2 separate regions of the Homo sapiens genome follow, and region 1 is linked to region 2. The links come from fine-mapping of genetic effects on gene expression. A gene starts in region 2. The other region holds a variant in brackets. All regions are shown on one strand. Distances are from middle to middle.

The links. PIP is the estimated chance that this variant, and not a neighbour inherited with it, causes the effect. A credible set is the group of variants that fine-mapping cannot tell apart.
Region 1: its variant is the best candidate, but not a certain one, in a credible set for the expression of GTF2A2 in memory regulatory T cells (Schmiedel 2018, PIP 0.60).

Annotation. Positions count from the first base shown.
Region 1 is chr15:59,629,153-59,633,547 of GRCh38, reverse strand. No RefSeq gene overlaps it. Among named protein-coding and RNA genes, the nearest start is that of GCNT3, 20 kb to the right of the region's middle. The variant T/G (reference allele first, on the strand shown) is at 1,941.
Region 2 is chr15:59,655,368-59,659,762 of GRCh38, reverse strand. GTF2A2 (general transcription factor IIA subunit 2) reads left to right here and starts at 2,248. Exons shown (of 5, transcript NM_004492.3): 1 at 2,248-2,357. It overlaps BNIP2 (BCL2 interacting protein 2), which reads left to right. Exons shown (of 10, transcript NM_004330.4): 10 at 1-617. RefSeq lists an enhancer at 2,212-2,441.

The DNA.
Region 1 (4,395 bases), 26 kb after region 2:
CTTCAAAACTGGTTCTTTTGCCTGTAGGCAGAGATGTGAAGGTATACTTTCCACTTCTGGAGACACATGGGCAGCACTGATTCTTTGGCCAAGTTAAGGGATGGACACAGAAGCTTTGTGCATTTCTCTTTCCTGCTTCTACTCCCTCTATTCCCTGATAGGAATACTCTATCTGCAGACTTCCACATTTAGTCATGCCAGAGTAAGAAGGATGGGACTTAACTTCCTTCTATAAACAACTAGAAAAGTAAATTAAGTATATGAAACAAACGTTTTCCACATATTGGACCACAGGCAGCTGTGACAGGACTGTAATCCCTAAGAAAGGAAAAAAATAGGATGAACCCTGTAATCATCCCAGCTCTCTTCATGGAGGCAATATCCAAGCTGCAGGCACAGGGAAAGGAAATAGAAACAGAACCTGGCAGTCTTGCGGAGTTGAGGAAAGGTGAGATAGTTGAAGCTGCAAGCAGATTTCCAGAAAGGAGAACACTATGGAGGGAAAAAAAAACCTCCAGGAATCTATACCGTGGTCCCCTCGAGTCCTTACTGAGTGCCTGGCTGCATAGAAGCAGTGACACTCCGCTAGGCCAAGCTAAGAGTGGGGAGTTGGAAACAGCAATTCCCAAAGCTCACACTGGGGGATGCCAGAGGGAAGAGTCCTCTGTAATCACCCAAGACATTAGAAACCCCAAGGTCATGCCTTGGTAGCAGGCATCAAATATCCCTTGAATGAAGGCTGCTTGACTTAAACTCACCCTAGCAAAGCGGAAAAGCAGACTCAAGGGAGATCACACTGTTCCACAAATATTGCCAAAATGAAGCCCAACACAAGTAAACGAAGTCCAGATCCTCAATAACTTAAGAGTTACAATGTACTCCATCTAACAGAAAAATGACTAGACATGCTAAGCAGCAGGAAAATGTGACCATAATGAGGACAAAACATAATGAACAGGAACAGACACAGAAATGACAGGGGTGATACAGCTAGCAGACAAGGATGTTAAAACTGCCATTTTTGTATTAATACAAATACTTAATGAGAAAAATCAAAGATTTTTTTAAAAAGCAGAACTTCTAGAGATGAAAGATACAATATATGAAAACAATTAACTGAATAGCAGACTAGATACTAAAGAAGATCAGTGAAATTGAAAAACAAATTTTATCTAAAATACAGCACAAAGAGAATATAACTAGGGAAAAAAGGAATCAAACCTCAGAGATTTTTGGAATAATATCGAGTGGCTATATATGGAAGGGAGAACAGAAAGATGAAATTAAGGAGACAGTGGCCAAATTTTTCCAAATTTGACGAAAACTATAAACCAACAACGAAGAAGCTTAACTCCAAGCAGGATAACCACAGTACATCAAAATCTAATTGCTGAAAAATAGTGATAAAGAGAAAATTTAAAAGCAGAGGTAAGAGACACTTTATACCCACAAAAACAAAGATAATGATTTCCAAAGACTACTTGTTAACAGCTATGCAGCTAGAAGACAATGAAATAAAATCTTAAAAATACTGAAGACCACCTCACACCCATAAGGATGGCTACTAGCAGAGAAAAAAAAATTAATAAGTGTTGGTGAGAATATAGACATAGTGGAATTCTTTTACAGTATTGGTGAGAATATAAAACTGGCACAACTAAGGAAAACAGTATGATGGTTCCTCAAAAAATTAAAAATAGAATTACCAACCAGGCATGTCGGGTCACACTTGTAATCCCAGCACTTTGGGAGGCTGAGGCGGGAGGGATTGCTTGAGGCCACTAGTTAGAGACCAGCCTGGGCAACATAGAGACTCCCATCTCCACCAAAAAAAAAAAAAAAATTAGCCAGGTGTGGTGGCATGCACCTGTAGTCCCATCTACTTGGGTGGCCAAGGCAGGAGAATTGCTTGAGCTCAGGAGTTCGAGGCTATAGTGAGC[T/G]ATACCTGCGCCACTGCACTCTAGCCTGGGCAATGGAGCAAGACTCCATCTCAAAAAATATATATATATGTATATATATGTGTGTGTATATATGTGTATATATATGTATATATGTGTGTGTGTGTGTGTGTGTGTGTGTGTGTGTGTGTGTGTATATATATAAATTTACCAAATAATCCAGCAATTCCAGTTATGGGTATATACCCAAAAGAATTGAAAGCATTGGCCAGGTGCAATGGCTCATACCTGTAATTCCAACACTTTGGAAGGCCGAGGCAGGAGGATCCCTTGAGCCCAAGAGTTCAAGACCAGCCTGGGCAACATGGCAAAACCCTATCTCTATTAAAAAATAATAGTACAAGAAATTAGGTGGGCATGGTGGCAGGCACCTGTAGTCCTAGCTACTTGGGAAGCTAAGGTGGGAAGATAATCCGAGCTCTGGAGGTCAAGGCTGCAGTAAGCCGTGACGGCGCCAGTGCACTCCAGCCTGGGTGACAGATTAAAACTAACGTCTTAAAAAAAAAAAAAAAAAAAAGCTAGAAATGATCAAGCTTACAAAGGAAGACATGTCAAAAGCTGAGCCTCTTGTGTCAAAGTCAGCCAAGTCATAAACACAATGGAAAAATTCCTGAAGAAAAGTAAAAGTGCTAGTTCTTACTCCATTTGCAGAACCCCTAAAAAAAAATTAAAAAAGTGCTACTTCAGTGAACGCATGAGTAAGAAAGTGAAACAGTCTTTTTGCCGATATGGAGAAAGTTTGAATGCTCTAGACAGAAGAGCAAACCAGCCACAACATTCCCTTAAACCAAAGCCTAATCCAACCAGCCACAACATTCCCTTAAATCAAAGCCTAATCCAGGCAAGGTCCTAATGTTCTTCAATTCTGTGAAGGCTGAGAGAGGTGAGGAAGCTGCAGAAGAAAAGTCTGGAGTTAGGAGAGGTTTATTTGTGAGGTTTAAGGAAAGATGCCGTCTTCAGAACATAAAAATGCAAGATGGAGCAGTAAGTGCTAATGTAGAAGCTCCAGCAAGTTATCCAGAAGATCTAGCTAAGATCATTGGTGGAGAAGCCTACACTCAACAGATTTTCCTTGTAGACCAAACATTCTTCCATTGGAAGATGCCTTCTAGGACTTTTGTAACTACAGAGGACAAGTCAATGCCTGGCTTCAAAGCACAGGCTGACTCTCTTGTTAGGGGCTAATGCAGCGAGTGACTTTAAGTTGAAGCCAGTGTTCATTTACCATGCTGAAAATCCTAGGACCCTTAAGAATTAAGCCTGGATGACAGCACATCTGCTCATAGCATGGATAACTAAACATTTTAAACCCACTGTTGAGAACAACTGCTCAGGAAAAAAAAAAAAATTAATGCTTGTTGAAAACATACCTAGTCACTCAAGCTCTGATAGAGACATACAAGGAAATTCATGTTGTTTTCACGGTTGCTAAGACAACATCCATTCTGCAGCCCATGTATCAAGTAGTAAGTTGAACTTTCAAGTCTTATTTAGGAAAAACATTTCGTAAGGCTATAACTATCACAGATAGTGATTCCTCTGATGAATCTGAGCAAAGTCCATTGAAAAATCTTCTGGGTCAGGCATGGTGGCTCACACATGTAACTCCAGCACTTTGGGAGGCCAAGGCAGGTGGATCTCCTGAGCTGAAGAGTTCAAGACCAGCCTGGCCAACATGGTGAAACCCTGTCTCTACTAAAAATACAAAAATTAGCTGTGCATGATAGCGCATGCCTGTAATCCCAGCTACTCAGGAGGCTGAGGCAGGAGAAATGCTTGAACCCAAGAGGCAGATGTTGCAGTGAGCCAAGATTGTGCCAGTGCACTCCAGCCTGGGTGACAGAGCGAGACTCTGTCTCAAAGGAAAAAGAAAAACCTTCTGGAGGCCAGCCATGGGGGCTCACGCCTGTAATCCCAGCACTTTGGGAGGCCGAGGCAGGTGGATCACCTGAGGTGTGGAGTTCCAGACCAGCCTGACCAATATGGTGAAACCCTGTCTCTACTGAAAACACAAAAATTAGCCAGGCATAGTAGCATGTGTCTGTAGTCTCAGCTACTTGGGAGGCTGAAACAGGAGAATTGCTTGAGCCCGGGAGGCAGAGGTTGCAGTGACCCGAGATCGTGCCACTGCACTCCAGCCTAGGTGACAGAGACTCTGTCTCAAAAAAAAAAAAAAAGAAAAAGAAAAGAAAAGAAAAGAAAAAAAAGAAAAACCTTCTGGAAAGGATTCACTATTTTAAATGCCTTTGAGAACATTCGTGATTCATGGTGTGGAGGCCAAAATATCAACATTAACAGGAGTTTGGAGAAAGTTGATTCCAACTCTCATAGATGACTTTTTGGGGTTCAAGACTCCAGTGGAGGCCAGGCACATGACTCACACCTATAATCCCAGCACTTTGGGAGGCCGAGGCAGGTGGATTGCCTGAGGTCAGGA
Region 2 (4,395 bases):
TTAATGATACTAGGCTTGTAGGATGTCTTAGAATCATGTTTAACAAGAAGTTAAAATATTTGCATTTTGAAATTTTTATGCAGTTTGGCTAAGGAGGAACTTGGAAAATAACATTCATCAGCTTCTACACTGCACTTTTTGTATGTGGACTTTGTAAAGTTTAATGTCCGTTTAACAGTTGCTTGTTTATTTGTGTAAACCTAGCTAGTAAATATTGATGATGTTCAGGGCCACTGACTTGCACAGCCCTTGGAGCACTATTCACACAGAACACAATTCAGAGTTTGTTAAGACATTAACACACTTTGATATCTATTCCAAAAATACTTTTGTTACCACAGGTTCATTGCTGTCATTTAGACAAAATTAATGTACTGTGATATTTTCCTACTCTTAAGATGATGTTGCCCAGCCGAGTACTGTCAGAAATTCAGTTCTGATGTCTGTGTGTGCAAGATATTAATGTGGTCCCTGTAAGAAATACCAGAGTTGGTCATGATTTACTAAGGAGATGTAATATTTTCTTTGACCTGTTAGGAATATAACTTGTGTCTTGATTTGTTGCACATCATATTTTTTGCAACATTAATGAATTTAAATAAATTAATTGGAACGTTCGTCTTTGTCTTTTTATCACATTTTTCTTTCATTATGCTACTAAATTTTTGCTTTGAATTATCCTATAAACCTCTTAAATAATTTCAGACCTTTACACTTGTTTCCCTTTCTATAGTCTAAGTGCTTCTATTCTTTGGGGATTAGAGAGTTCAGCCTGCTTTATTTTAACATCAAAACAATAATGAAACTTTGTGTTTCATAGTTGAGATTTTTTTTTAATTAATGGGGAATCCAAGGATGAAACCATGAGTGGCTTAAAATGAAAACATGGCTTTTTTTTTTTTTTTTTTTTTTTGAGACAGTTTCGCTCTTGTTGCCCAGGCTGGAGTGCAATGGCGCCATCTTGGCTCACCGCAACCTCCGCCTCCCAGGTTCAAGCAATTCTCCTGCCTCCGCCTCCCGAGTAGCTGGGATTACAGGCATGCACCAACACGCCCAGCGAAATTTTTTTTGTATTTTAGTAGAGACGGGGTTTCTCCACGTTGAGGCTGGTCTCGAATTCCTGACCTCAGGTGATTCGCTCACCTCGGCCTCCCAAAGTGCTGGGATTACAGGCATGAGCCACCGCCCCTGGCCGAAAACATGGCTTAAATAAGAAGAACTTGTTTAGTTCATAGACCTGCTCAGAGGTTCCAGCTGATACCACTTGGTGTTTTTTGTGGTTTTGTTGTTGTTGTTTTGCACATACTCTTTAATCACTATTCAGCTATTTTGTAGGATAAACTGCTCTACACATGACTGCTGGGTTTAAGCCAGTTAGTGTACCATGCACCCTGACACCTAAAACAATTTGTGATTTTGCAAACTTGAAATTTATAGTGAAGTATTTATCTTGCATATTAGATGCAAATTTTAAATATAACTTCTCCCAAATTAAAGTTCTTCATGAACTGGTCACAAACTAAAAACTTTGCCTGCAGCCCTGTTTCGAGGGGTAAAGAAGATACCCTGCTTACCCTGCTATAATTTTTTTTTTTTTTTTTTTTTTTGAGACGGAGTTTCGCTCTTGTTTCCCAGGCTGGAGTGCAATGGCGCGATCTCAGCTGACTGCAACCTCCGCCTCCCAGGTACAAGCCATTCTCCTGTCTCAGCCTCCCAAGTAGCTCGAATTACAGGCATGCGCCACCACGCCTGCCTAATTTTTTGTATTTAGTAGAGACAGGATTTCACCATATTATGCTGGTCGCGAACTCCTGACCTCCGGTGATCGACCCGCCTCAGCCTCCCAAAGTGCTGGGATTAAGGCGTGCGCCACCGCGCCCGGCCCCTGCTATAATCTTTTCAGAATTCGTCTGCAAGGTCTTCAACACTGTTACCCTGAACACACTTCCGGCATGAAATATGAATGCCCTACATTTCTTAAATTGTGCATCTAACAATGGAGAAGATTAGTCTCTAAAAATTATAATTCCCTTAGGAACGATTTAGTAAACCTGGTGAATTACTCGAGCAGAGCGCCTGTCCACCACTTTAAGGCTTCAAGCTCCAGCCCGACGCCCCTCCTTCCCTCTCCACGCCCTTCCCTGACAAGGCTTGAGTGGCGGGCGAGAGCAGGGCTGGGCGGGGCCTCCCGTCCCTCGGGCGGGGTGTCACTTCCAGGTTCCGCGAGCACTTCCGGGTCGTCAGCTCAGTTCTGCGGTTTCTGCGGCGGCTGGAGAGGTGGTCGGAGAAGTAGGAACCTCCTGCCGGGCTCGTGGCGGCTTCTGTCCGCTCCGCGGAGGGAAGCGCCTTCCCCACAGGTAGTGGGTTAGGGAGGGCAGGGTTAGGGAGGGAAGCAGGGCCGCGCTCCCTGCCGCCCCCCCGGAGTCGGAGTGCGTTGGTGGGGTAGTCTCTGAGGGCCCTTCGCTCCTGGGATCTGCCCGTTACCGACCGTTGCCGGCAAGGCCCCGCGGCCGGCACCGGAGAAGGGCGGCGAGGCGGCGGTGATGGTCGCGTCCCGTGGCGGGAGGCTCGTCGTTCACGGGGCGCCCACAGAACCCACCTAGGGGAGGTCTTCAGCCCACCACCGTATTTTCAGCCAGGTGAATGTCTTAAAGCATCCACTAGCGCCCTGTGAGTTTTGCCGAATTTCGGAGAGCATTTTTTAAATGTCTCATTCCTGTGCTTTGTAGCTTGTTGTTTGAAGTCTGCCTTCCAACTTTCTTCGTGCGAACTCCGACAAAAGGAACGAATTTTAAACTTGGTGGTTTAATCAAAAAATGCTAGGACGAGTTACTTCCGAATTTGACTTCTAATTTTCTGAACTGCAAAACAAGAAGGGAACAATAAATTTCTGTGGCTGATACCACATCTAAAAGATTAGAACACTTAACAAGGAATTTTTAAAGAATGTAAGAACATTGAAATCAGCACTTTTAACAAACGTTTAACGCAGGGCTATTTTCTAGATAAACTCAAAAATTTGTCAAATGGGACACGATGCACGATTCTGTATTCCTACTCTGTGGAGTTTTTATCTACCTATTGGGACTTCTTGCCCTTTTTAACCCCCTCTCCCCTCCCACACGCATATTATACTTACTGATATTTGCCTTCGTTTACTGAACAGATTTTTTTTTGGCTCCTATTGTGTGCCAGGTACTGTTCTAGACGCCTATTTTACTTAAGTGAACAAAATAAAAAGCTTTGCCCTCATGGAGCTTACATTCTATTAGAGGATGCAGAAAATAAAATATATAATGGTGTTAGAAAGTGATGGTGCCATCAAAAAAAAAAAGAGAAATATAAAGGAGTACGGGAAAGTTCCAGAGTGGAGGTGGGAACTGGTATTTTAAAGATGACGGTGGTCAGTTTGAGCCTCATTTAGTAGGTGTTATTTGAGCAAAGACTTGAAGGAATTAAGAAAATTTGCTAAGTAAATATCAGGAAGAGCATTCAGGCAGATAGGAAAGCCAATACAAATGCTTTTAGGCCTGTCATGTTTGAGGAATAGCAAGGAAGCCAGTGTATCTGGAGAGGGATGAGCAAGAGTTTTGGGGGTGGAGGGACAAGAAGATAAAGTCAAAGAGATCATGGTAGCCGGATCATTGTAAAGGCTGATAGAAGCCATGGGAGATTTTGAATAGAGGAGAGGTATGTTGTAACTGAAGTTTTAGAAGATCACCCTGGCTGTGAGTTGTGATTAGAGTGTAGGGGTGAGTGTAGAAGCAGGGAAATCATTTAGGAGATTTTTGCAGTAATCCAGATGACGAGAGTGGCCCAGGTCAGGGTGATAACCGTAGGGATGGTGAGAAGTGGTTGGATTCTGAATGCATTTTGAAGGTAGGCCTTACAGTATTTGCTAGGAATTGGATATGGAGAGTGAGATAGAGGGAGTGGAGGATGAAATCAAAGGTTTTGCCCAAGCTCGTAGAAGTATGGAGTTCTTTAAGCCACGATGCAAAAGATAACAAATAGAGATGTTGAGTAGGCAGCTAGATTCAGGAGTGAGAAGTTCTATGCTATATGAATTTGGGGATCATCAGCAGTGGTACTTAAACCATGAGAATAAATGTTATCCGTAAGGAATGGGTGTAGACGGAAAGCAGCAGAGGCCTAAGGACTGTGTCCTGTGATATTAAGAGTTTAGCGAAAACGGGATCAACCAGCAAACAGTATTAAGAAGGATGAACTTGTGAGTTAGGACAATCCGAAAAGGGCAGTGTCCCAGAAGCCAAGGTAAGATCCTGTACGAAAGAGGAGGGAGTAATCAGCTGTGTCCAATATTCTGAGTGAGGCTAGAGAATTAGCTTTAGCATTGCCATTGATGACCTTCACCAACCTGTTTCCTTAGAGTGC